4 linked regions of the Homo sapiens genome follow. The protein of the gene in region 2 purifies or fractionates together with the protein of the main gene of each other region. This does not show direct contact. Each region holds a gene or a part of one and is shown on either strand. Other genes may lie near its edges.

Region 1 (7,334 bases), on a different chromosome or scaffold from region 2:
GGGAAACACAGGATTTCAGGTTCAGTGATGGTGGTTAAGATCTGAGGGGGAGGCCTGGACATGTTTTTTCCACTGACTCTGACGGTTGAGGTAGGTGATTTAGTTCTGGAATACAGACTAATCAGTTGACCGTTTGCTCTCACTCCTCTGAGGTTTGGATGCCTAAGAAGAGAGGATTTGAGCCAATAAATGACTATAGGGTGATTGGAACCCAGTAAGCCCTCACTTCTGGTGGAGGAGAGGGTGGGCCTTTGGCTCCAGACACACCTCATGTGACCCTGATCTCCCCTTTGTGTTTGTGTGACTCTGGTTCAGTGACTGTGGCTTCCTGTGCCTCAGTTTTCTCTCAAACAAATAAGCTAAATGGCAAATGGACTGTGGCTTTTCATGCTATCTGTGAATAAATGTTAAATGATTCACAGTCACGTGACCTAATTCTTGGCACAGTGGAGGTTTCACACAAACAGCATTTATTATTAATTTGCTTCCATGAGAAAGCACCTTTATGTCAGATGCCTGTGGACAAGCTGCTACCTGGTATATCTTCTCTCCTCTGTTTCTGCTTCTGGGGACATTAGACTTTCTATGGACTGGCCTAAGCCTCCTAAGGCAGTTGTCTGATGGCCTACAAAGCTTGTCTTTCTGTCCTCTCCACTCTGAGTGTCAGGTGAAGAAAGCTCTGTCCTTGCCCAGATGAGGCTCTGAGGGCTGAGCCCTGGCTGGTGAACAGCTCCAGGAGACACAGTCCTCTGACAGCTGGTAAATCCTTGGTCCCAGTAAGCCCTGCCCAAGAAGCGACAACCCAGCCCCAGTACAGGCTCCTCAGATTTATCTGGAGCAAGGATTTAGGGACATGGTTCTGGGGGTGAGGCTTCTAGGGCTGAGCTTCTCTGAGAGTATTTCATGGGGCCCCTGAGGCCAAGCCCTACTCAGTTTGCCAGGGTCTTTCTCAGGGTCAAATTTATGAAGAGAGCATGAGGTGCTTGGCTGAGACTGATCTCCTCCTGCTGAGTCCCCCCATCAGACTGTCCTTCCTCTGCAGCGAGTGTCTGCAGGGTCTGGATGCGGGAAAGGAATTCTGATCTGTTGAAATTTGTCTCTTCTGTGTGTGTCCTGCACTAAATGCCCAAACCCCAGCATGGGACATAATGCAGAGAGGGACACAGGCACAATCCAGGCCTGACAATCCTTTGTGTGTGAAGTAAAGACCCCATCCCCCAACACCCAGTGATCACGTGGAGTCACTCACGGTATAAGGTGAAGGTGAAATGTCCAGTTTCTCCTCTAGTCCCATCACCTCGCTTTACGATGTGTAAGGTGTAGGATCCTGCGTCCTCCCGGGTGACATTCTGGATCAGCAGGGATGCATTGGAATATACTGTTTCTCGTCCACTGTATGCAGGCCCATATATAATTATTTGACCATCTACTACGTATGATGTAATGTAATGGTAGAGGTCCTTCATTTGCCCTTTGTACCAGATGTAGCCAGCAAGATTCTGGGGCAAATTGTGGACAAGTAGAAGAACGTCCTTCCCCTTGGAAACTTTGGTTGGCTCGGCTTCAATCGTGACTTGGGCAGTGGTAGGCAAGTTCCAGAAGTTTAAAAGTAATGCTAGGAGGTGGAGAGAGCATCAGTCAATATTGAGACCTATGCATTGGGGTGAAAAGATGTGGCCCTGGGTCCTGAGAAGGTCTCTTCAATCCTCAGCTTTGAAGAGACACACACACACACATACAAACACACACACACACACAAAAGGGGCATGTGTATATGTGTTTGTGTCCTACTCTCCTACTAGGTGAAGGTCAGCAACATGACCCCCATTCCTTCAACACTTCTGACCTTGGCATTTTTCTGTTTGGAATCCTCTTCCCCAGGGGTCCGCACGGCCCCCTCCACACTGCCCTCAGGTCCTGCTCACATCAGGGCATCCTTAGACTTCTTTCCTGACGCCTCCTTCAGAGACCCTGGGTCTTCCCTTTCTGACCTTTCCCTGCTCTGCTCCCTCCAGGGTTCTTCTCAACACCTGACCTCACATTCTAGAACTCTTTGCATGTCTGTCTTCCCCCCCATGACAGCGTGAGCTCCGTGAGGACAGGGACTTTTGTGATCTTCTTTGCACCCCAGTGCCTGGAACAGGCTGCAGACTCCTGTAGATGTGAGAGTTCTCAGGGCCCTCCATGCCCTGGGTGTTTTTTCTTCCCCCAGTTGTTGAGGTTTTTTTGCTGAGGACAGTGTTTCATGCCCTGCTTATATTTTTATTTGAAGTGTCATCTGATATAGTTATTATTATCATTTTTCAAAATGTGGTGGCCCCTGATGATTAATCAGGAAAACAGAACACTTAAGATTTTCCTACCTCTTACCAATTCTGGTTCCTGTGACTTTCCTGTTTTGACCCCTGTCCCTCTTGGGTGTATTTTCCCCTATCCAGGCTCCAACAGAGACTTCTTTCCTTTTTTTCTTTTTTCTTTCCATTCTTTTTTTTTTTTGAGACGGAGTCTTGTACTGTCGCCCAGGCTGGCGTGCAGTGGCACTATCTCGGCTCACTGCAATTTCTTCCTCCCGGGTTCACGTGATTCTCCTGCCTCAGCCTCCCGGGTAGCTAGGATTACTGGAGCACACCACAATATCTGGTTAAATTTTTGTATTTTTAGTAGAGACAGGGCTTCACTGTGTTGGCCAGACTGATCTTGAACTCCTGATCTCGTGATCCACCCTCCTCAGCCTCCCTAAGTGCTGGCTTCTTTTATTTTTTAGAACCCCAGGAGTCTCTCCAGGAGACCCCATCCAGTCACTCTGCTTCCTCCTCCTGTCCTCTCCCAGGAAGTTCTCTCCTCACCTGTGAGCAGGAGCCCCTTCCAGGTGATGCGCTGTGTGCAGGGAGGGGCTGAGAGGGGCCCCATGGTCTCTGCTGCCTGCGTGTTCTCCTCTGTGGAGCTGAGCCTAGGATCCAGAAACTTCCTGAGCATGGCTCTCAGCTGTGCTGTCCTTCCTCCTTCTGCGCTGAGCCTCTTCCCGGGGCAGGAGCACTTCTCAGGTTCATGGGCGGGGTCAGGCCCAGGACACCTCTCTGTCCCCTCCTCTCTCAGTCCTGCCTCCTTGTCCCTCCTGTTTTTCCTTTTGTCTGTGTTTCAGGTCCCTGGGAATTGTGGAGGCCTCTGCCTTTTTCAGCAGTGATTCTTTCACCAAGCCTCATCACACACTTTGTGCAGACACACACACACACAGACACACACAGAAGAGACACACACAGACCCACACAGTCAGAAACATACCCTGCAGGTTGGGCAAGCAGAGTCCTGGGCCTCAGCCTCCTGCTGTCCCCATGGCTCTGGGTCGGGGTGCACATTCATGCCCTTTGGCCTCTTTCATCCCCATCTGGCTCTCCCCTTCAGTGCAGGAGGCTGGAGCTGAACCAGGTCCCTGTCACAGTGACACCCCATTGTGCTGTGGGTGAGCTGTGTGTTGCCTGATGAGAGGGAACCTTCCTTTTTCTAATCGTGTCTAGCTTGGCTGCAGCTTCCAAGGATGGACATTCAGGACCTGGGTGTCCCAGAGGAAACTGTCCTTCCTGGAGGTGTGCAGGATGAATCTCTCATGCCTCTTGTGAGGAGAGGCCTGTGCTGGTTGCTCAGTGGGGGGCTGTGAGTCCCATAGTCAAAGGGACAGTTCTCGGTCACTCTATGGCTCCCTGGGGTCTGGCGGCTGAGCTGGAGCTCATGGTTTCTCATGTTCTTCCTGACCATCTTTGATGTCCTCTCTTCTCTGCCCAGCTTATTGTCCTGTGGTCACCACACCTTCCCCGTGGTGGTGCAGGAGGAAGTGGGGAGTTACCCAGGAACCCCGGGGGACATGGCTCATTGAGATGCAGGAGGGGGAGCCTGGGACAGAGCAGGGGTTCAGAGCTGGAGAGATTCATCCCAACTTACTCTGTGGCCATGATGGGCTCAGCCATCCATGTGCCGACATACCCAGGGGTCTGTCCTGAGGTTTTTGACCTGGCCAAGCTGCTGTGTGTAGAGGAGGAACAGGTAGTGGCCAGAGAGCCTGTCTGGAGGGACGTTGCTCACACCTGAGTGGGCGTGTGGGGGTGAGTTGTGTTCTGGGAGCAAAGAGCAATAACATCCCCCTTCTCCCAGCAAGCACACAGGAGAGGTCTGTCTTCCCAAGGGACAGCTGGGGGTAGGTGGCCACATCCCGGATGGTGCCTGTGTGTGAGCATCACACGTGCTCTGAGCCCCCCGGGGTGCAGGGAGCAGGCAGGACACAGGGTGCCTGGCTGATTCCCGGGGAGGCTGTGGGCCCTCAGGCAGCCACTGTTCTGTGTCAGTGCTAGGCTTGGCCTGGGATGCCCCAGAGAACAGGACAGATGGAGCAGGGGCAGGCATTTAGGGAGCAGTGACAGAACGAGTTGATGAGGATGGAGGGAGGCCACGAGGGGAAAGCACCCAGTGTAGTGTCGCGTGCACCAGCACTGCCCTGGGAGATGCCTTTAGCTGGGCCCAGGGAAGGAGCAGGTGTGTGGGGAGGAGCTCCCTGCAGGGGGAGTGGTGTTAGGTTGGCGGCCCCCAGGTCAGGGAGGAGCTGACAGAGTCCGTGTGGGGAGCATGGAGGGCGCTGAGGACTTGGGCCGAAGTGACCCTGGTGAGGGTGGACCCTGCTGGGCTGTGGGTTCCGTTGAGGGCGGTTGGCATCCCCTGGGAAGGCTCCAGGCTGGGAGGGACTCTGTCCCCCTCTGGTGGACAGGGAGGGAAATGTGAACGGCAGCAATCCCAGGCCAGGCTGCATGTTTTATTCCACATGGATCTGCACACTTCACACGAGGTCACACATATGTTATGTTATAGCTCCTTCACCTTCCAGCCCCGTGAGTCCCAGTCTGTGTGGCTCTATGTTCACTGTTCTCCCTCTTTCACAATCAGATGTCCCAAATGCAGATTTTTGTCACCTTCTGTGAGTTTGTGTTTGTGTGCAGTAGGCAGCACTGTGTATACCCTGGGGGCAGTGATGTCTGGGGCTGAGCAGTGCACATGGGCTTGGGAGAAGAAGAGGGAGCAGCAGGGTGGGAAGATCAATGTCAGGGGGGCAAGGACAAGTCATTTTCATTTTCTCACTCCCAGGGACCAGAACCCAGGATTCTGACTCCAGGGCACAGTACCACACCCTGCTGGTGTCCCTGGATGTCATGATGCTCATAGTGTCATGTTGCCTTGTCATTCATCTTTTATGGTGTAAGTTTATTTGCCTCAAATCAGAGGCAGGGCTTGGTCACCAATGCAGTTTCAATACTGTATCTGGTTCAGGTGGCTCCAGTTGGTGTGCAGAGATAAAATCTTAGAGGCATCTCTCCTGCTTGGTGTGCTGGGTTTCCCTCTCTCCAGCTGCTTTCTTTAAACTGATAATTCTGACATTTGCCCTCACATTTAAAGTGACCACCTCTCAGTCACAGCGTGAGCCCCTGGTCCCAGTGTTTGCTGCTTGCTTTGAACACATCCATTAAAGCTCCCTGCTGGAAACCTGTCAGATAACACCCTGGACTTAATAAAGCCATTGGCTTACCGGTCTCTTCTCTCCTCTCTCCATGGGCTCACTGACCTCTGTGTCTGTGGTCTCCAGGTGTGCCAAGTGCTCCCCAGTGTCTGTAAGTAGTAAAAATACTTACACTTTCACGTTGTGGTTGTATCACTGTGGCCTCACATGCCATCCAGGGTCTGATATTGAGGCTGCCTTATGGGACCTGTGCTGGTTGAGCCCCTGCTGGAGCTCTTGTTTTGGGGCGTCTGGTTCTGCTGGGGACAGGAGCTTCCAGCTAACTTGATTGAAAATCTGATGCCTTTCATTGAAACACTGGGTCAGATGATGTATTCATGGGCTTCAGCTGCCATAACAGACACCTTAGCCTGGGTGAATTAAATAATAGAAATCTATTTTTCACAGTTCTGTGAATAATGTGCTATTTTAACCACTTTAAAATGCATAATCAAGTGAAATTAACCACTTACACAGTGTTAAATTACCATCACCAGTATTTTTCCTAGAAAATTTTTATCATTTTAAACTGAAACTTTGTATCTTTTAAACAATAACTCCCTGTATGTTCCACCTTAGACCTTGATCTTCTCTACTCTGTCTCTATGAATTTGCCTATTCTTGATGCTTCATATAAATGGAATTATACAATTATGTTATTTTGTTTCTGACATATTTCACTTAGCATAATGTTTCCAAAGTCCATGCATGTTCCAGCGGGTGTCAGAGCTTCCTTCCTCTTTATGGCAGATTATCATTCTGTTGTATGTGTCACCATATTTGTTTATTCATGTGTTGATGAACACTTGGATTGTTTTCATATTTTATCTTTTGTGAATAATGCTGCAATGAACATTCCCATGCAAGTACCTGTTTGAGTCCCTGGATTTAATTCTTTGGGTATATACCTAGGAATAGATGTTGTTTCAAATGAGAATTCTATGATTAGCTTTTTTTTATTATTATACTTTAAGTTTTAGGGTACATGTGCACAATGTGCAGGTTTGTTACATATGTATGCATGTGCCATGCTGTTGTGCTGCACCCATTAACTCGTCATTTAGCATTAGGTATATCTCCTAAAGCTATCCCTCCCCCCTCCCCCCACCACACAACAGTCCCCAGAGTGTGATGTTCCCCTTCCTGTGTCCATGTGTTCTCATTGTTCAATTCCCACTTGTGAGTGAGAATATGCGGTGTTTGGTTTTTTGTTCTTGCGATAGTTTATGAGAATGATGATTTCCAATTTCATCCATGTCCCTACAAAGGACATGAACTCATCATTTTTTATGGCTGCATAGTATTCCATGGTGTATATGTGCCACATTTTCTTAATCCAGTCTATCATTGTTTGACATTTTGGTTGGTTCCAAGTCTTTGCTATTGTGAATAGTGCTGCAATATACATACGTGTGTATGTGTCTTTATAGCAGCGTGATTTATAGTCCTTTGGGTATATACCCAGTAATAGGATGGCTGGGTCAAATGGTATTTCTAGTTCCAGAATCGCCACATTGACTTCCACAATGGTTGAACTAGTTTACAGTCCCACCAGCAGTGTAAAAGTCTTCCTATTTCTCCACATCCTCTCCAGCACCTGTTGTTTCCTGCCTTTTTAATGATTGCCATTCTAAGTGGTGTGAGATGGTATCTCATTGTGGTTTTGATTTGCATTTCTCTGATGGCCAGTGATGGTGAGCATTTTTTCATGTGTTTTTTGGCTGCATAAATGTCTTCTGTTGAGAAGTTTCTGTTCATGTCCTTCACCCACTTTTTGATGGGGTTGTTTGTTTTTTTC
Region 2 (7,037 bases):
CTCAATCTGAGTCCTCCTAGACACAGCTGGAACAATAGAAATTAATGTGAATTCTGGCAAAGAAAAGAAATAAATATTCCTTTCTATGTATTTTTTCTTTGTTGAGGATGATGTGTTGAGGTGTTGTTAGCCACCTCTGACACTAGGTGAAGCTAGCATCCCTCTGAATGAAGACAATATAGAGAAAAGAAGGGGCAAAAAATTCAAATTCAGAGACACAGAGCCAGATGACATCATATAAACCCCTGTGTCTGAAGTGAAACTTACTACACTTTTTTGACTTCCAAATTACATGAGCCAAATTTGTGGAAGTTTTTGTTTCTTTGTTTTTTATTCTGCACTGGTTAATGTGAATTGAATTTCTGTCACACAAAGTAAGAACCCTAACTAATCCAACCAGACTGTGTGGAAATGGCTGTCAGGATAATATTGATGGAGATGAAATCACATTGCCTTAGACAGGGCTTAGCGCTCTGTTAGCTATCCTGAGATACCCACCACCATAGTAAAGTGCTCCAAATCCTGTGATGTGGACAGTCAAATTTGGTTGGAAGGATGCAGAGGCTTCTGGCAAACAAATCTGGCGTATGTCATCCGAAAAGGTGACTCTGGAAGAGACCTGCACAACAGCAATGTCGTACTCTCTTGCTGCAGAGCGGTACTTCTCATGGATAATAAATCTTCTGACATTTCTTTTCATTAAGGGAGGGTTGATTTTTGTTCCAAAACTAACAGTCCATTGATGTGGATTTTTATACCTGGAAAAGGTTAGAAATTAACAGAATATATATAAGCTGCCCAAAGTATATGAGCTAGATTAATTGCATTTAGGCTAATATAAGAGAAATACAATCCTGAGAATACTTGGCTGCAGTTATAGTTTTCTTTTATCATTTAAATATAATCTATTGCTAATGTTTTGAAAGATAAAATCATATAAATGCCATATTAGAACTGATATTTAATACAAAACTATTGAATTTTAGAACTGTAATACACATAAAATATCATTCATTTATCCCTTCCACAAATATTTACTGAGCATCTGTGTGCTGAGCCTTATCTGAACTGCTGGGGATAAAGTGATGAACAGGACCTAAGGTGCCTGCTCACAGGAGTATAAGATTCCAGAGAAGGAAAAGGATCAAAGCAAGCAAACAAATAGATAAATAATCTTAAACATTGATAAAGGCTATGAACAAAATAAAATAGGGTAACGGAATAGAGTACTAACAGGTCATTATGATTATTTTGATAACGCATTTGGGCTAAGACATAGTAAAAGAGGGTCAGTGTGAGGAGATGAGGGAAACAAGTTTCCAGGCAAAAATCCCAAGGTCTTGGGTTGGATGGGCTGCAGTCAGAACACAAGGGAAAGAATGGTTGGGGGTGAGCTTGGAGAGGTAAGCAGGGACTAGATTTTAGAGTGTTTTATAGGTCATGATAAAGTGCTTAAATTTTATTGAAGTGATATGGGAATCTACTGGATAATTAAGCCAGAGAATAATGTAGTCTCATTTACATTTTTAAAAAACATGTTGGTTCTTTCTGGGGAGTAGATTCTTGAAGGTCAAGAATGGATGTGGTAAAGTCTATTAGATGACTGCATAGTCCTTTGAGAGATGATCAAATGTGGTAAATGCGGTTGACTTCTAGCTTGTGGGCTTGGGCAATGGGTGGATTATGGTACATACAGGAATCGGAAAAATCATTTAGTAGCAATGAAAGATCATCTAGTAAAGACTGTGTTTTATACTTAAGGAAAATAAAGCCTGGATAGGTTAAACTATTTGATTCACATCACATATCTGCCTGCCTCTCTCTGCTCTTCCCTTTATAAAACACTGTCTCCCACCAATTTACATTATTTGTATTTTTCAGAAGACTTCCTGCTTTATTTTGTTATGTGTGACACTAGTCACACATCTGTCTTGGTGTATTTAGTTATTGGAAGCATATTTTAAGGAAGACACTGACAAAGTCTCGAATGTTCAGAGAATAAGAACCAATGTGGTAGGGCATCTGGAAGTTGGTTCTGGAAAAATGAGGTAATTATATATATATATATATATATATTTTTTTTTATATATACACACACACATATATGCATATATATACACACATATATATGTATGCATATATATGTGTGTGCATATATATACTTTTTTCAAAGTTCAGGGTTACATGTGCAGGTTTGTTACACAGGTAAACTTGTGTCATGGGGTTTTGTTGTACATATTATTTCATCACCCAGGTATTAAGCCTAGTACCCATTAGTTATTTTTCCTGATCCTCTCCCTCTAGCACTCTTCGGTATAGCAAAGACATAGAATCAACCTAAATGCCCATTAGTGATAGACTGGATAAAGAAAATGTGGTATACATACACCATGGAATGCTATGCAGCCATAAAAAGAACAAAATCATGCCCTTTGCAGGGACATGGATAGGGCTGGAGGTCATTATCCTTAGCAAACTAAAGCTCACAGTAATGATATTTATTTTCACTTATGGTTTGGATATTCTCCCTCATTTTATGTTTGGTCTGAAAAAGAGAAACTAAAGAATAGCTGTTATATGAATGAAGAAATAAAATTGGTTCCTGTTGTTCCAGATTAAAAGAAAAACAAATATTGATGGTAGAAGTTAATAGAGTATAGATTTGGTGTTCAATGCTATAAAGATATTTGCAAAAATAGAACTATCTACCACAAAAATGGCTAACTTTGGCAAAGTAAGTTTCCCATTACTTTGAAAAACCAGACACCAGCATAAGGGATTTCTGGCTTTCTAATATATCAGCTTACTGAGCTCTCACATCTTTCAAACATTAAGAATTTATGTAGATTATTTTTAAAAATATATTACTATTTTTTTAAGATGGGGTCTTGCATTGTCACTCAGGCTGGAGTGCAGTGGTGCAATCATAGCTTGCAGGAGCCTCAAACTCCTGGGCTTAAGGGATCCTCCTGCGTTAGCCTCCCAAGTAGCTGGGATGATAGGTAGGCACCACCATGCCCAATGGGGTTTCACTATCTTGCCCAAGCTGGTCTTGAACTCCTGAGCTCAAGTGGTCCTCTTGCCTCGGCCTCCCAAAATGCTGGGATTACAGGCATGAGCCACCATGCCAAGCCTAGATTCTTAATATGTATATTCTTTGGAATATTAAGAGTCTCTATAAAGATTTATGCTCCTAGGCAAATGAAATTTATTATAGTAACAAAAGTTAGAATTTTATAGGTCAAAAAGAATGTGAAAAGATCTAGCCTATCTATTACCTAATACACTAAGGTTCAATAATTTGCCCAGCTCTCCAACTGCCTGGGACATATTTTTCCCACTAAATCCTGCTGCCACCTATTATATAGAGATACTCAAGAAGTCTTTGTTATTACTGTAATAATTGGCAATGAAGAAGAAAGGCGATACAGTTAATCTACTTAGAAACAAATCTAAAATTCTAAATGTAATAGTGATAAAAATGACTGGTTATTATCTTGAAAAGTAAGATTAAAAGTTATAAAAAGTCATTTAATCATATATTTAATAAAATGTATGCATTCAGAAACAATTATAGGATAGCACAATTTGCTATTCTTCACTTCAGCTTTGTCTTTTGTGTCACTATTGTGAAGAGATGCTCTATTATGGGAAGGTCACATTGAGTGGCCCAAGGGCCTCTATGAATCCTTTGATACTCCGAGGAATCTCTTTTGAAGTGCCTGTCTTTATCATGCTAGCAATCTCTCATTTTGGTTGTAAACTGTTCTGATTCCACAGATCTTCATATGTCAATGCTCTAAATTTGATCTGCAGTTCTCCATCATCACGGTTACCAACTTCCGGCATTTATTGAAAATTTCCATTTTACTTTGGAATTAGTTTGATTATTTAAGATCAGTATGAGACTGGCCCAAGTGTTTGGCAGAAACAGACACTAGTTTTAAGTGGAGAGCATTGTTTGACAAAAGATTAATGGTACATGTTATTAGTGAATATTTTGTGTTAGGATGTCACAAAATAGTTCTGATTTCTTTACACAGTTTCCTTATTAAAAACTTTGAGGAAATGATTGATGGATACTAGGATAATGACTGTTACTTATTCCCATCAAATTTCTGATTAAGTATGCAAGTGTAACATTATTTTAGAAAAGAACCTGAAATAACTTTTTCTTATTTTACTTCAGTAATATTTGAGACATTAATTGTTACCAAGAATATGACAAAACTCAGGGCTTTTTAGCAGAAGTGGGTTCTAACTTAAGGTCAATAACTTACTTCTGGAAGCAGTGTGCTGCAGTGACAAGCCATGTGTTACTAATCAAGGTGGCCCCACACTGATGGATGTTATCATACTGAAGGGAAGCTTGCCAAGGCCAGGCCGCCTTGGGTGCAATGACTCCAGATGCTATTCTGTTGACGTTTAATGGAACAACTCGTTTACCACAACCTGAAAAAAGATGAGATCATTAAGTTATAAGAAACATCTTGTAATTACAGGAAATGACCCCATTCTTACTTGCCTGAAGACATTTTCGTATACTACTCCTCCTGCCCAGGACACTTACCCCACCTGTCACTGGATTCATGGCCTCTTCTCTCTCACATTTCAGGGTTCACTTTCTTACTGTGTGAGAACAGGTTAGCTGACTCTCTGATCAACTCTCATAGCACTATGCACTTCCTCTGTCATAGCATTAATCACATTATTTTCATACTTCCTGATTTATTTATATCTTTCTCTACTTTGGAATTCTAATTTTAGAGCAGGGATCATGTTTTATTCACAATGGTACCACCAACTCCTGGTCTAATTTCTGGCACTTGGTAGATGTTAAAAGATATTGTTGAATGAATAAACACATGGATAAAAATACTTAGGGTGTTTGCAAGTCACAGAGGCAAATGCATGAACATCATTGCTCAAATTCATCACTGTTTTTTGTAAAATCTTTCAAAATTTAGGCCACAGTGATTTGAAGTGATTTAATGAAGCCACTGTTAGCGATTAAGATGAATCTATTAAGCATATTTTTTTCTTCTTTTTTGAGATGGAGTCTCACTCTGTCGCTGAGGCTGGAGTGCAGTGGTGCAATCTTGGCTCACTGCAACCTCTGCCTCCCAGGTTCAAGTGATTCTCCTGCCTCAGCCTCCCAAGTAGCTGGGACTACAGGCACCTGCCACCGCACCTGGCTAATTTTTGTATTTTTAATAGAGATGGGTTTTCTTCTCCATGTTGGTCAGGCTGGTCTCGAACTCCTGACCTTAGCATATTTCACAGACAAATTGTCAGTCACAGACAATGGGTTTTATGTCCTTCCTATTGATTACTTTCTTATTATTTTATTTTGTAGCAGAAAGTACATTTTATGGCATTTTTAAAAATTAGAAAAACAAGTCCAATATTCCCAATCAAAAATAAATGCTTTCTTCAAATTGCCCCAGAAGGTTACCATGGCAATTTTTTTCTTGAACATGACTAAAAGATCAGTCCATGAGTTAGAAAAAAAATGTATTTAAATCTATCGTACAAATAGTTATTATCTCTCAAAGAAAATCTGGAGGACAGATGGGCAAGTATGAGCAAATATTTGAAAATGTCCTTTCTGATGTGAAAATTGAACTTGTTTATATAAGCTAACTTGACTTACTTGCTTGGACAGTTAACTCCCCTGTTGATGAGCTCATTGCTGAAAAAGAAGATAAAACAAATAGTGATAATTTGATATTTTCCTGGTTGGTCTCAATGACCAGGAATAATCAGAGGATACTGACCATATATGGATTCTAGACAGTTGAACATATAGATTAATTAGGAGAATGGCTATCTGATATAACAACATCTGTGTACAGTTTTTGTAGAGACTTATAGGCAGCCTCTAATTAGGTGGATACTATCACAAGCAATGGGTGAGTAAGGCACAAATAGTGGATGACTAAAGCCCACAAATAGTTTGTATTAATAGAGAACTATGGTTTTCCAGCAGTTCGGGGTAAAGCTTCTTTGCATTCCACTTCAGAAGATGGATAAATGGGACAGAGGAAACAGGTTATATTAGTTTGTTTTCACACTGCTGATAAAGACATATCTGAGACTGGGTAATTTATAAAGAAAAAGAGGTTTAATGGACTCAGAGTTCCATGTGGCTGGGGAGGCCTCACAATCATGGAGGAAGGCAAAAGGCATGTCTTACATGGTGGCAAGCAAGTCAGAGAATGTGAGCCAAGTGAAAGGGGAAGCCTCTTATAAAACCATCAGATCTCATTCACTACCATAGAACAGTATGGGGGAAACTGCACCCATGATTTAATTTATCTCCCACCAGGTCCCTCTCACAACATGTGGGAATTATGGGGGCTACAATTCGAGATGAGATTTGGGTGGGGACACAGCCAAGCCATATGGCAAGTAGACTGTCTTACAGGTCTCAAACTCAGCCTCAGCCAGAACAGATCTGCTTTGATCTCTTCTATTTACTTCGAATTTCACATAAATCTTTTTTTTTTTTTTTTTGGTTAAAGGGTTTAGAATGAAAAAACCTTGAAAACTCTTGCATAAATGATATTTAAAATGCTTTTTAAACACAGTTCCTAAATAGTAAAATTGCTTTTTTAAAGAATAAACTGTTATGTGTTTCTTATCCAAAATATACTGAATAGTGGTAAAAGCTAGTTATTGGACACAATCCAAGATTAAATTCTGTCAACTTCCAAAAAAGTGAGGAGTTTGACTAAGGAAACACAAATATTTAAACTTGTATACATGTATCAAAGCATCATGTTGTATACAGTATACAATTTTTATTTGTCAATTATATCTTACTAAAGCTGGGGAAAAATAAAGTTGGTGGAAGGTTTCATGAAAATTTTGATGATTTTCAAGTTAAAATGACTTAGCTTATTGAGCAGATGAGAATAAACTGTTTACTTTTTCCTACCAGTGCCATGTTTCTCAGACACATTCTCAGTATTCTATTCCTCATTATACAAAATAAGATTGTTTCATTCTACTAACTTTCTACAAATTCCACTGGG
Region 3 (7,000 bases), on a different chromosome or scaffold from region 2:
CTTGGCTTCTCAAAGTGTTGGGATTATACGTGTAAGCCACTGTGCCCAGCCTAGGTTAAAATTTTTTAAATGTTAAAAATAGAAGCATTTAAGGCTGGGCGCGGTGGTTCACGCCTGTAATCCTAGCACTTTGGGAGGCTGAGGTGGGTGGATCACCTGAGGTCAGGAGTTCGAGACCAGCCTGAACAGCATGGTGAAACCCCGTCTCTACTAAAATACCCCGTCTCTACTAAAAATCAGCCGGGAGTGGTGGCAGGCACCTGTAATCCCAGTACTCAGGAGGCTGAGGCACGAGAATTGTTTGAACCTGGGAGGCAATGGTTGCAGTGAGCTGAGATTGTGCTACTGCACTCCAGCCTGGGCGACAAAGCGAAACTCTGTCTCAAAAAAAAAAAAAGAAGCATTTAGGTTGGGCGCAGTGGCTCACACTTGTAATCTCAACACTTTGGGAGGCCAAAGCAGGCAGATTGTTTGAGTCCAGGAGTTCAAGACCAGCCTGGCAACATGGTGAAACCCTGTTTCTACAAAAAAATCCAAAAGTTAACAGGGTAACGTGGTGCATGCCTATAGTCCCAGCTGCTCAGGAGGCTGAGGTGGGAGGATCACTTGCAATCTGGAGGTCGAGATTGCAGTGAGACAAGATGGCGTTATTGCACTCCAGCCTGGTTAAAAAAAGAAGTATTTGTATCTCAGGTGGCGATCTTTATTCAGAAGCTAGAAGAGAATGTTGAGTTGCTTCGCTGATTTTCTTATCTTTCTCTAAGCAATTTCCTCATAACAAAAGTTTTAAGAATGTTTTTTATTAAGAGGAAAAACTGGGCTGAATGTACTGGCTCATGCCTGTGATCCCTGCACTTTGGGAGACCAAGGCAGGAGGATCAGTTAAGCTCAGGAGTTTGATACCAGCCTGAACAACATAGTGAGACCTTGTCTCTGTTAAAAAAAAAAAAAAAAAAGAAAGCCAGGCACGGTGGCTCATGCCTGTAATCCCAACACTTTGGGAGGCCAAGGCAGACAGATCACTTGAGGTCAGGAGTTCAAGACCAGCCTGGCCAACATGGTGAAACCTCATCTCTACTAAAAATACAAAAATTAGCCAGCACGATGGCGTGCACCTGTAATCCCAGCTACTTAGGAGGCTGAGGCAGGAGAATCACTTGAACTCGGAAGGTGGAGGCTGCAGTGAGCTGAGATTGCACCACTGCACTTCAGCCTGGGCGACAGAGTGAGACTCCATCTCAACAACAACAACAAAAAAAAGTTAAAACTGAAAGCACTTTTGAATCTTACTCAAATGTATTAATGATTAGTGTAACATTGGTTATCCTTTACATAGAACAAAAGCATCGAACTTTCATTGCTTTCCCATGTGTTTTACAGAGTCCTTTTTTTTTTTCTTTTTTTCTTCTTTTGGATTCTGGCATCTTTCATTTTTAAGATGGAGTCTTGCTATGTTGCCCAGACTGGTCTCAAACTCCTGGGCTCAAGCATCCTCCCACCTTGGCCTCCCAAAGTGCTGGGATTACAGGCATGAGCCACTGTGCCCAGCCTCAATTCTGGCATTTTCATTCATCTGTTTAAGCCCAGTGCAGAAAAACATTGTGGACGGAAGGGGAAAGTCTTTAGCGTAGTCACCAATGAATTGACCTTTGCCTAGGCTTATAAGAGCTGCCTGTTTCAATTTGCCTTCAACTCTGTTGGGGCAGGGTGCAGTGGTTCATGCCTATAATCCCAAAACTTTTGGGGGCTGAAGCAGGAGGATCACTTAAGGCCAGGAGTTCAAGACCAGCCTGGGCAACATAATGAGATTCCCATCTCTACAGAAAATTAAAATTATCTGGGCACTGTGACATGTGCCGGTAGTCCCAGCTACGAGGGAGGCTGAAGTGGGAGGATCACTTGAGCCCAGGAGGTAAAGGCTACAGTGAGCCATGATCACTTCACTGCACAGCAGCCTGGGAAACAGAGCAAGAGCAAAAAGAAAAGAAGAAAACTCTGCTGGGATTTGTTTTTGCTTAGTAAAACTTTTTTTAAAGTAACTTTTTACTTCAACATCACCAGCCTTTAATGTTTTCATAATGGCATCTGAGTGGGTTTAATCTGTTTAGTGATTCAAGAATATGTAGCATATATTTGATACAACTTAAGCATTCTGAATGAAGTGGAATCTAGTAAGTCATGTAAGGAGACTTTCAGGTTGATCAGATATTTCCCATCAATGATATCATTAGGGTACATTGCATAATTTTTATATGGTCATTCTGAGTTTATTTAACACCTGGTTATAGCTCCCCCCACCCCCCTGAGACGGAGCCTTGCTCTGTCGTCCAGGCTGGAGTGCAGTGGCACGATCTCGGCTCACTGCAACCTCTACCTCCCAGGTTCAAGTGATTCTCCTGCCTAAGCCTCCTGAGTAGCTGGGATTACAGGCGCGCACCACCACACCTGGCTAATTTTTGTATTCTTAGTAGAGATGGGGTTTCACCATGTTGGCCAGGCTGGTGTCGAACTCTTGACCTTGTGGTCCGCCCGCCTCGGCCTCCCAAAGTGCTGGTTATAGCTTTTGTCTCAAAAAAAAAATGAGCCTGGGAAAACAACCTGTGTAGTATATGGGTCAAACCCACTTGTACTTTTTTGTTTTAGGATGCACTCCAGAAATTGACTGAAATTCTCAATTTAAATGGAGAAGTAGCTTGCCAGGACTCAAGCCATCCTGCCAAACACAGGAACACATCTGCAGTCCTAGGCTGCTTGGCCGAGAAACTAGCAGGTAACTTTGGGACACTCCACAGTGGAAGATCTTAAGTTGTTTGACATTAAAGGGAAATTTGTACTGTATGTCTTTGATCAAACTGCTATACCAGAAAGAAATCTCTTAAAAATGATATTGAGAGACATAGACTAACTGGAAGAAAATTACTGAAAGGCTACAGAGGTGAATGCAATTTAATTTAGCTTTGTGGATTTTCAGGGGAAATTTTAAAAGAAAAAAGTTGTGCTTATTTGCTTTAAGAATAAGGAGCGAGGAAAAGAAAAAAGGGAGAAAAGCTAAATTCAGCATAACAAAGATATGTATGTGTGTATACAATATATAATTTGCATATATACACACTTTATAAAGTTTAGCTCGATTATGAAGACATACAAGGTAGAGGGAGAGGAAAAGGAACTTCTGGTTGGAGCAGTTCCTGAGAAGCAGGTATTTAATTTGTTTATGAATGTTACCCATTTTAAGAAAGTTAACAGCAAAGTACAGGGGCATAGCTCAGCTACTTACATCACGTAATGTGGAAGAAACAATGGATTAGAAATCAGAACATGTGGCTACTGGTTTGGACTCTCCCATGTGCTTGCCAAGTGCCCTGGAGTTAGTTGCTTAATTCTGTGGGCTCACTTGCTTAACTGTGAAATGGAGCTAGTACTATTTTCTACCTCAGAGCAGGAGGCTTTAATAAGATAATGTGCATGAAAGAGTTCTACCAAAACAATTTGATTGTTACCAGTGATTTAAAATAATCTGGCATTTTAATTATATCAAGTGTTTGTTGTATTTGTCTAGGTCCTGCAAGTATAGGTTTACTTAGCCCAGGAATACTGGAATACTTGCTACAGTGTCTGGTAAGTGAGACATCAAAACTATTTATTCTTAGTCATCTAGAAGTGGGCATCATCTAGAACTGTGCATTTTCTCAAATTGCTGGCATAGCCACTGGCACAGAGAATGGAATCAATTGTAAATTTTATTTGCAGGTGTTTCCCGAGTGCTTATTTATTCCCTCCTATGTTTAAAAAAGAGAGTGGGATTGGAATTTATCCCAACCAGCAAAAACAGCTGAGTTAGTCTGGTTTTAAATTTAGTCATAAGATAGCTGCTATGATTGGCTCTTTTGCATGTTCCTTGAGTTTGCCAAATGGTAATAGGGACCTCCACAGTAGAAACAATTACATGGCGTTCCAAGCCAGGAGGCCATCAAGTCAGATTCCCAGTATATATAAATCTCTACTCCTCCCTGCCCTCCCCCTCACTGCTACTCTTAAAACTGTTGTCACTGGAATATTTAATATATTGTCTATGAAGCTTCTGGTTTGCTGAGGCTGTGCCCTCAGATCTCTCATAGTTCTGGCCTGTGGTCTTGAATGGTCTGTATTTTTAAAAGTTATTTTTGTAGGCCTAGTGAGCATTGGCCCTTTTCAAAACTCTGGTCTGAAAACCCTTATTTGTCAATACCCACTGATACGTGCTTAAAACACTTACCTTACTCTCAATGAGCACTCTGGGGATACAACATGGCAGTCCTATGATTTCAAGAGGTTTATTGGTTAGTTGAGGAAACAAAACTACTCAGACAAGGTAATTAGCCTCCATTTTATCACAGGATGTGATCATGGGAGAAAGTACTTCATCAAGACTAAATGAGGGCCGGGCACGGTGGCTCATGCCTATAAGCCCGGCATTTTGGGAGGCTGAGGTGGGCTGGTCACCTGAGGTCAGGAGTTCAAGACCAGCCTGGCCAACATGGCGAAACCTGGTCCCTACTAAAAATACAAAAATTAGCTGGGCATGGTGGCATGTGTGTGTAGTCCCAGCTACTCAGGAGGCTGAGGCAGGAATTCACTTGAACCCAGAAGGCAGAGATTACAGTTAGCTGAGATCTCACCACTGCCCTCCAGCCTGGGCGACAGAGCGAGACTCCATCTCAAAAAAAAAAAAAGACTAAATGAGAAGGTGGGTGGTATGGGTAATGAGAGCCGGGGTGTCATGAAAGTCAGACTTCCTGATGAAGGTGGACCCTCAGCTGGGTCATGCTATAGATGAGGATTTTATTGTGCCCAGAGGAGGGAAAAAATTGGTTTCTTAGCTAAGGGAACATCACAGGCAGAAGTCCAGAGACAGAGAATTGTCTGATGAGAGAAGACAGTGTTCAGAGATAGGACACAGACTGAGTAGCCAGCTAGAAAGGGTTTAGGGCCTGAAAAGCCAGGCAGAGGGATTTAGATGGATATGAGAAGAAATAGAATGCTGAATAGGCTTTCCAGCAGCAGGGATGGTGGTTATGTGAGGTTTCCAGAACTTAGGAGGTACCAGGGAAGTCAGTGGGAATCATCTGATGTTCTGGAGCTCCTCTGGTGGCTCCCAATGTAGCAGTAGGGAAAGCACAGCTATGAGAAGGTGTCATGTTCAACAGATAGACCTTTCCTTAAAGGGGAACTCATGTGACATGAGCTTAAATGTAACTAAAAGAGTTCACTTGTTGCTTTCTCCTGTCTACCATCAGCATTTGTAGAATTCCTTTCAGGGAACAGCTTAAAAACTGAGCCATTAATTGTTAATTTAATTATTTATAATTTTGCAACTTGTTAGTGATAAGTGGTTCTTTTTAGGATTCTAAGTAAAATATCATTTTTAGTTTATAATTCTAGGTTTCTGTTTGGCTTGCATAAATGAATGTGAGAATGAATATTTTATTTAACAAAGCCCTAATGTAAGTTTTATTAAGTAAAATAACATAGTGTATTTAACAGGATACTTTTGAAATTTCCAAATCTATAAATTAACCTAGTGACTTTAAGAAAAAAATACAAGATTAAGAGAGCCTGTCCAGTTCATTACTAACATTATTAGCCAAATGGATAATTGAGAACTTGAATGAATGAAACTTTTCTGACCACTCGAAAAAACATCTAGCACATATTGGGCAAGGAAATGAAACTGATAACTTGCCACCTCTGCAGGGGAATGATTTTTTTTTTTTTTTTTTATCTTTTGTTGTTTTTCAGAAGTTACAGTCCCACCCCACAGTCATGCTTTTTGCACTTATCGCACTGGAAAAGTTTGCACAGACAAGTAGGTATAGTGACTTCTTGCACTAATGATCTTCTGTATTGGTTGTTAAAAATTTTATTTTTCTTAGTTACTGGATAAGCCTACACTTTGAACCCCATCAGATGGGCATACATTCTGTTTTCATCTGGATAGACACGTTAAAGCCAATGAAGTATAACAGGGACAAAGGCAAGGATTTTCTCACCTAAGAATCAAAACTTGGTAACCATGTTTACTCACTTTTTATAGCCAAAAATTTAGTGATGTGATTGCTAGTTTCTAGAAAAAAGTATGGTGGCTCTTGCCCATAATCCCAGCACTTTGGGAAGCTAAGGCCAGAGCATTGCTTCAGGCCAGGAATTCGAGACCAGGGTGGGCAGCATAGCAAGACTCAATCTCTACAAAAAATTTTAAAAAATCAGCCAGGCATGGTGGCATGCACCTATGTTCCTAGCTACTTGGGATGCTGAGGCGGGGGGATCACTTGAGCCCAGTAGTTCAAGGTTACAGTGATCCATAGTTGTGCCACTGCACTCCAGCCTAGGCAACAGAGTGAGACCCTGTGACTAAAAAAAAGGAAAACAAAATAGTCAAAGCTCTTTGGCTATGTTTTCCCTAGAAATTTTAATTGAAGTCTAATCTAGTCTCCAATTCTTTAATTGCCTCTTCCCCCTCCTTAGCAATACTAATTTGCTGAGCAAATCATTCTACCCTTTCATTGTTAATTCAAGGATTATGTCTTTCCAAACAGGTGAAAATAAATTGACTATTTCTGAATCCAGTATTAGTGACCGGCTTGTCACATTGGAGTCCTGGGCTAATGATCCTGATTATCTGAAACGTCAAGTTGGTTTCTGTGCCCAGTGGAGCTTAGACAATCTCTGTAAGTGGGAGTTGTCCTTTATTAAAATGTCCGTTTCCATTTCCAGACTCATTTCTTTCATAGGCTCACTGGTCTTCCTTTTGCAATGGTAAGTATGAGTCCTCATAAGGACCTCTACTGGCAGGTTGGATATATTCTAGCAGAAAAGTATCCTAGAGACCCTTTAGACAAGAATTACATGGTATGCTTCTAATTTCAGCATTTTCCTGTTCAAAAACCTTTACTGGCACCCAGTTTCCTGCTGCATCAAAGCCCTTAATTATATGGCACTGTCTAACCAGCTCTTTCCAACA
Region 4 (7,037 bases), on a different chromosome or scaffold from region 2:
GTCCACTTGCAAGGAAAATTCTCATATAACTCTATTAGAAAGGGGGATCCACCATGGTGTTTAAACTCACTTTAGGTCGCACTGTTGTAGAAATGGTTCAGATTTTATTAATCCTTTGCTATAATTACTTCCAATAAGAACTTCTGGAGAACTCCACTTGATTTACCAAATTGAGCTCAGCATATTAAAATGAATAGTTTTTGCCCAATGAATTTCTCCTCCCTTCCTTTCTATTCCATTGTTTATTTATTATCTGTAGTTAAAACATGTATGAGACCATTTGAGAGCATACTGTAGATACTAATTCCTGGATGCTGTGTGATGCAAAACAAACAAAAAAGCACTCATAGCATTTCAACTGTGGCAGCTATACAGACATTAGGAACTAGACAGAAAGGTAGGAGCTTGGTAGACTTATAAGGTTTTTGAGCAAGGGAGTCGTGTAATGGAGCAATACTGTTGAAAAAATATTTTTGCCAAGTTGTATAGAATTTTTTTGAGGAACATCTTTTTCAAAATATATTTTTAAAACATCCTTTGGCCTCCTCTGTGCCAAAAAGAATTCTAAGCACTTAAGATAGATATATGAATAGGAAATGGCTATGAGCTCCTAGTAAGGAGGCACGTTGATGATCTTTTATTATTGTGTCACCTATAACCATACTGCCACCACTATATTCATTTGCTGTTGTGTAGACAACACTAACATTATTTGCCCATTTTTCATTATTTGTATGTATCAGTGCTGTGCATTTTAGGTGATGGGAGTAACCAACATCATTTTATACCCCTACTATTTCAAAGAGAGAGAGATAAAAACAGATCATTTTGGTAAATTTGAGGTGTTGTAGGACCGCTTAACCCAGCCTGGAGAATTTGAGACCTTTTGGCCAATCTGATGTCTAAACCACCCAGGATGAGTACAATTCATTGCAGCAGAGTTGGGAAAGGGCCTTTCCCAAGTAGCAGAAACAAGATTTTCAAAGACTCATAGGTCAGGAAGACCTCGCAACGTGATGGACAGCAAGTAGTTTAGTAGAGCTGACTGAAGAAGAGGAAATTGGGGAAAGTGGGACAAGCAATAAGCCAGGTAAGGAGAGGTAAGCTAGTGCCAGTTTGTGATAAGTTTTCTATTTCCTGCTAAAGGTTTTGAATTTATCCTGAAGCCTATTAGGAGCTATTCAAAAATTTTTAAGTGTGAAGGTGATATGATCAGATTGCATTTAGAAAAATCTCTTTGACATCATGATGAATGATACAGCTGTAGAGAGATCAGTTGTAGGAACTTAAGAAATGATGAGGGCTGGAAATAAGGTAATTACAATAGACTTGAAAGGAAGTGAATAAATTCCAAAAGTATTAAGATGGGTTAGAAAAAACTAGATGCTGAATTGAATATGAAGCAGGATGATAATGTAATTTATTGAAGCATTCATTGAGATAGGGAAATAGGTTGATAATCAGGATTGGATAGGAGTAGGGGTGGGAAGGAATATGTCCTGCCCATGAGTCATCAGGTGGAACTATCCAGAAGCAAGTACTTATTCAGGTCCAGGTCCTATCAAGAAATGTGGCTTACCAGGAGTTTGAGGCTGCAAAGAGCTATGGTCACACCACTGCACTCCAGCCTGGGTGAGAGAGACCCTGTCTCTAAAAAAAAGAAAAGAAACATGGCTTAAATAAAGATTTGGAGACATCAGCATGTAGAGGGTGACTCAAGCCGTGAAAATGATTGAGATGAACCAGGAAAGATGCAGAATGAGAAGATAATTATTAATATTTGCTCTGAGTATACTGTTTTCTGTATCAATATCATCTGATAATCCCTCTCATTTGGCTTGTCATTTTTCCCTCCTTAATCATAGTTTCCTATTTAGACCATTTTAAAGGAAGCAGGATATCAATTACAAAAATCAAAAATAGTCCTTTTCAAAAACTGATAAATCTGAGAATAAATAATATAGTGCCATTTACAGCAGATTTTCTTTCTTTTTATTTTTCTTTTATTTTCTTTTCTTTTTTTCTAGAGACAGGGTCTCACTCTGTCACCCAGGTTGGGGTGCAGTGGTACAATCATAACTCACTGTAACCTCAAACTCCTGGACTCAAGCGATCCTCCTGCCTCAGCTTCCTGAGTAGCTTGGACTATATATAGGTGCACACTACCACATCAGCTAATTTTTAATTTTTTTGTCTCTACTATTTTGGCAAGGCTGGTCTTGAACTCCTGAGCTCAAATGATCCTCTTGCCTCGGCCTCCCAAAGTGCTGGGGTTACAGGTGTGAGCCACCGGGCCCGGCCAGATTTTCTTTTCTTATCAGTGGCTTCCTTCTAAAATACAATTTATCATCATAATAGACAATTTGGTTTCATTTTTAAAGAACATAATAATCTCTGTTTATTATTATTATGTATAATATTAATAGTGAAAAGAAAATCTATAGGTTTCATTCTTTGAAGCATTAAGTAATTTTTCCCCTGATCCTTGATAACATCATGTGTGAATAATCAACTTTGCAGATATTTGGGTAGGGTACAGAGAGAGGTATCAAGCATGTCTTGTCTGTTTTAGTTTTCTGTAATATACTTTCTCCCAATCATAACTTGCACATAGAATTGAATTATCATGGTGCATTAATAATGTACTTGGGGTTTTGCAGGTGTTCATCAGTAATGGGTCATTAAGTGATGTTGTGATTGTAGTTGCGGTCACAAATCATGAAGCTCCCTCCCCTGCCCATGGTATTAGCCTTTTTCTGGTGGAAAATGGAATGAAAGGATTTATCAAGGGACGAAAGCTACATAAAATGGGATTAAAAGCCCAGGTGAGTGATAATGTAAATCATATTCAGATACTAATTGAGTTTACTGTTAATCAGATAGGAGACTTACATAGAGGATTACATGTGGCACAATTTTATTTCCTATGCTGAATTCCTAAAATATGCTTTTCTGATGTGGTAATGAGATTTATTCTCATTTATACCACTCTATCTTTCTGATGGTCAGCAATAGAAATGAATCAAGGTATTTTGAATATCTGTTTTAGAAATGGCAAAATTAACTGCATGGTAACAAGCCATCTATTTGTAAAATGCATTAAAGAAAAATATGAAATAAAAATAAAGTGTGGCCAGGCACAGTGGCTCACACCTGTAATCCCAGCACTTTGGGAGGCTGAGGCCAGCGGATCACCTGAGGTCAGGAGTTCAAGACCAGCCTGGTCAATATGGTGAAACCCCATCTCTACTAATAATAAAAAATTAGCTGGGTGTGGTGGCAGGCACCTGTAGTCTCAGCTACTCGGGAGGCTGAGGCAGGAGAATCACTTGAACCCAGGAGGCAGAGGTTGCAGTGAGCCAAGATCACGCCACTGCACTCCAGCCTGGGCAACAGAATGAGACTCTGTCTCAAAAAAAATAAAACAAACAAACAAAAAAAACCCAGAAAATGTTCTTTCTATACATTACCAAAAATGCATGTTTTGCTTAATATGTATTAGAAATCCTTAGTTCCAAGTACCTTGAGAACTGGACAGTATTAGAGCTGGAATGATAGTGTATTGCAGTAGGAAAGCCACAAGGTTTAGAATCAGATGGCTGTGGGTTCAAATCCCTGGTTTACCACTTACTAGTTATGTTCATTAACTACTCCAACTTGGCTTCCAATTTGTGTTTTGTTTTTTTGGAAAAAATAATATTCACTTCAATATTCACTGGGTTATTGGAAGATTTAAATGAGACCATTCTCTACATTTTTTGTATGGTCTCTTAGGATACCGCAGAACTATTCTTTGAAGATATACGGTTGCCAGCTAGTGCCCTACTTGGAGAAGAGAATAAAGGCTTCTATTACATCATGAAAGAGCTTCCACAGGTCAGAAGTGTTTAAAGATTCCATCTTTTGACTGAATAATGAATTGGAATAGAATAATATAGAAACATGTTATTTCTATATTATGCATTCAAATTTATACATGCAAAACTTGTGAAATAGCTAATCATTTGAGTATTAAAGTTGTAATAAAAGTATGAGTTTTATAGGGTAGTTAAGTAAATAACTGAACTCAGTAATATCCAATCAAAGCTTATAAAGTAAGTAGGAAAAACAGATATTTCAGTTCTGTGATTCCTTCTTAGAATGATTTTAGCTTCTTAACTACAATTCAAAAACTTTTAGCTCTTTGTAAGGAAATGTCTTGCAAAACATTTGATAGTTTGCCAGTTTTTAAATAATAACTGTGAATCAAAGGGAAAAGTATAAAATTCAGACTGAAAAGTTTTAGCCACATAGGGTCAGTCCCTAAACAGCTATGGTTTTAAAGTATGGTTGACAAGTGATTATTGAGCCTCAGATGCCAGTGTAAGGGGGTACTCCTGCCTAGTGACTGCCATGAAAAACACCAGCATGATGGAATCAAACTGACTAAGGCTACTTTTACATTAATAGGTAGAATTTAACTTATGTGCTTTAAGATGTTTATTTCCACAGATATATTGAGTCATACAGTGTGCAGAGATTAATAAATTGAAATAAGCAACTGGGGATTGTTTTTAACTCACATGTGAGTAAAGAGAAGAAAAATTAAATTGCATATATATAATGAAGACAGTCATTCATGGGCATGGTGTTATGTGACTGTTGTCCCAGCTACTCGGAAGGCTGAGGTGGGAGGATCACTTGAGCCCTGGAATTCCAGGATGTAATGAACTATGATTGTGCAACTGTACTCCATTTTTGGCAACAGAGTGAGACTTTGTCTCTTAAAAATTTAAAAAGATTATAAAAAAATAAAGGTAGTCATTCATAAAAATAAAGGATTTGCTTTAGAAAGTGATTAGAGATATGTCAAAAGAATCTCATAAATCTGTTTTCTTATAAGGAGTTAAGATATAAATTAATCTTTATGAGTTTATTATAAAGATAATTTATAGGATTTATCGTAATTGAAATTGTGTGAAAATCACTTGCATAATTAGAGTAATGTTTAAGACCTAATTTTTGTGTTATAGGAAAGGCTGTTAATTGCTGATGTGGCAATTTCAGCTAGTGAATTCATGTTTGAAGAAACCAGGAACTATGTTAAACAAAGAAAAGCTTTTGGCAAAACAGTTGCTCACCTACAGGTAAGCTTGTCACTGTGGTTTAGTATTAGATGGTATCAGTTTACTAATCTGAAATGGCCTGGGGTAAATAGAAGTTTGGAGTTATTTTCATGTAAGGTGATATTAGAAACCATGGAAGTGGATGAGATCACTAAGGAGAGATAGTAGAGAGTAAGACAGGAGTGGTCTTAGGACACAGTCCTTGAGGAAGACTACAAGATTTAAAGGTAGAATTCATATTTGGAATTCATATTGTCTGAAAAGGAGGAGCCTGTAAGATGACTGAGAATGAATAAACAGAAAGGAGAAAGCAAATCAGGAGAGCTTTGTCACAGAAGCTGGAAGGAAAGAGGGCTTCATGGAGTAGGGAGTGGGATCAATTGCTGCTTAGGGGAAAAATAAGACGAAGGGCAAAGAGTGTTCATTGAATACAATGATATGGAGATTATTTAGTAAGAGCCATTAATGGAGGTGGAGGGTGACACACCCGATGAGTAGATAGAAATGAGGACGTAAAACAATACTGATGGTAGGCAACTCTTTCCTGAGTTTGGCTGTGAATGGTAGTTGAGAGAAAGGGTGGTAAGCGAAGAGGGGAGGGGAAGGAGATTTGAGATTCAAGGGAGATATTTGGGAGTTATTAATTTTTTGTCGTTATTTTTAGGATGGGAATGCGGGTGCATATTTTAATACCTGTATATAAAGAAAGGATTTAATAAAGAGGGAAAGGTTGTAGATAGGAAGGAAATAATCAACTGCGTAAGGTCTTTGAGAAAGGGTGAGTTTGTGGATGCTGACACATGGAAAGATAGGCCTTCCCATCAACAGGAGAGGGATTCCTTCATTTGCACAGGAAGAAAGGAGCAAAGGACATCTATGAGTTCAGACAGATACATCACTCTGTTGGTAGAAAACTACAAAAGTTCTTTATAGAAGACTTCTATTTCTTTAAATAACGTGGCCAGGCACACTGACTCACGCCTGTAATCTCAGCACTTTGGGAAGTTGAGGCAGGCAGATCACTTGAGGTCAGGAGTTCGAGACTAGCGTGGCCAACATGGTGAAACCCTGTCTCTACTAAAAATACAAAAATTAGCCAGGCATGGTGGTGCACACCTCTAATCCCAGCTACTCGGGAGGCTGAGGCAGGAGAATCACTTGAACCCAGGAGGTAGAGGTTGCAGTGAGCCAAGATCGCACCACTGCACTCCATCCAGCCTGGGCTACAGAACAAGACTCCATCTCAAAAATAAACAAATAAATAAATAAATAACAATAGAGAAAGTCCTTGAAAGACAGGTGAGTGAAGGAGGCATGGAGGTGTTGCAGAAGGGTGAGGGAGGTATGAAATATCTTCTTCAGAATGAGAAACTAAACTACTTTCTGCTTTTTGTGTATCAATCAGCTTTATGATAAGAGTTTAGCTTCCCAGGTACAAACATAGAGAAAAGACAGATGATTGTGTTTACCTAGGATTGAGTTTTCCCAGGAACTTGAGGGTTTTTGCAAAAGAACTCAGTATATAGTGGCCGCAGTCACTAAATATGCTAATTAAATTTTAGACCCTATAGTTTCTTTTTAAATGAAGGAATAGTTTATAATTCCTTCATGTGGTCATCAAATTGGCAAAACATCTCACCAGCAAAAAACCTGGAGTTGGGATTTGACTTAAAAATTTTTAAGTAGAATGACTGGCTGAAAGGCTTTGTGAAGGGAAAGGTAGAAATGAAACAACTTGGTGGCTTTTCAGAACCAGCATTCTAGAAATTATGTTCAAGTGTGGTTTATGTCCTAACACAGCTACTTGAATCTCCGTAGTCTAGTCGTGTTCTCTCTCTCAAAAATAGTTTCCTATTTGTAAATATATAAAATGTATTTGATTTGCAAAATTGTAAAATTTTGACTATAAATCTTTAAAATTTATAACGTTTG

What was found.
Region 1: the proteins of TMPRSS11A (region 2) and PSG3 purify together in Homo sapiens (affinity purification with mass spectrometry; 3 studies listed by BioGRID and IntAct, with this or other methods). This does not show direct contact.
Region 3: the proteins of TMPRSS11A (region 2) and RSPRY1 purify together in Homo sapiens (affinity purification with mass spectrometry; 3 studies listed by BioGRID and IntAct, with this or other methods). This does not show direct contact.
Region 4: the proteins of TMPRSS11A (region 2) and ACADL purify together in Homo sapiens (affinity purification with mass spectrometry; 3 studies listed by BioGRID and IntAct, with this or other methods). This does not show direct contact.

What each region holds. Positions count from the first base shown.
Region 1 is NC_000019.10:42,737,475-42,744,808, forward strand, and holds the start of PSG3 (pregnancy-specific beta-1-glycoprotein 3 precursor), read right to left. Parts: upstream 3,008-7,334; 5' UTR 2,977-3,007; coding exon of another isoform or gene 2,911-2,976; coding exon 2,847-2,910; intron 1,616-2,846; coding exon 1,250-1,615; intron 1-1,249.
Region 2 is NC_000004.12:67,918,475-67,925,511, forward strand, and holds part of TMPRSS11A (transmembrane protease serine 11A), read right to left. Parts: intron 5,693-7,037; coding exon 5,654-5,692; intron 4,453-5,653; coding exon 4,281-4,452; intron 759-4,280; coding exon 499-758; intron 1-498. UniProt on the Homo sapiens protein: Probable serine protease which may play a role in cellular senescence. Overexpression inhibits cell growth and induce G1 cell cycle arrest.
Region 3 is NC_000016.10:57,210,329-57,217,328, forward strand, and holds part of RSPRY1 (RING finger and SPRY domain-containing protein 1 isoform 1 precursor), read left to right. Parts: intron 1-2,643; coding exon 2,644-2,770; intron 2,771-3,559; coding exon 3,560-3,618; intron 3,619-5,778; coding exon 5,779-5,845; intron 5,846-6,575; coding exon 6,576-6,707; intron 6,708-7,000.
Region 4 is NC_000002.12:210,201,420-210,208,456, reverse strand, and holds part of ACADL (long-chain specific acyl-CoA dehydrogenase, mitochondrial precursor), read left to right. Parts: intron 1-2,660; coding exon 2,661-2,825; intron 2,826-3,774; coding exon 3,775-3,876; intron 3,877-5,012; coding exon 5,013-5,126; intron 5,127-7,037. UniProt on the Homo sapiens protein: Long-chain specific acyl-CoA dehydrogenase is one of the acyl-CoA dehydrogenases that catalyze the first step of mitochondrial fatty acid beta-oxidation, an aerobic process breaking down fatty acids into acetyl-CoA and allowing the production of energy from fats.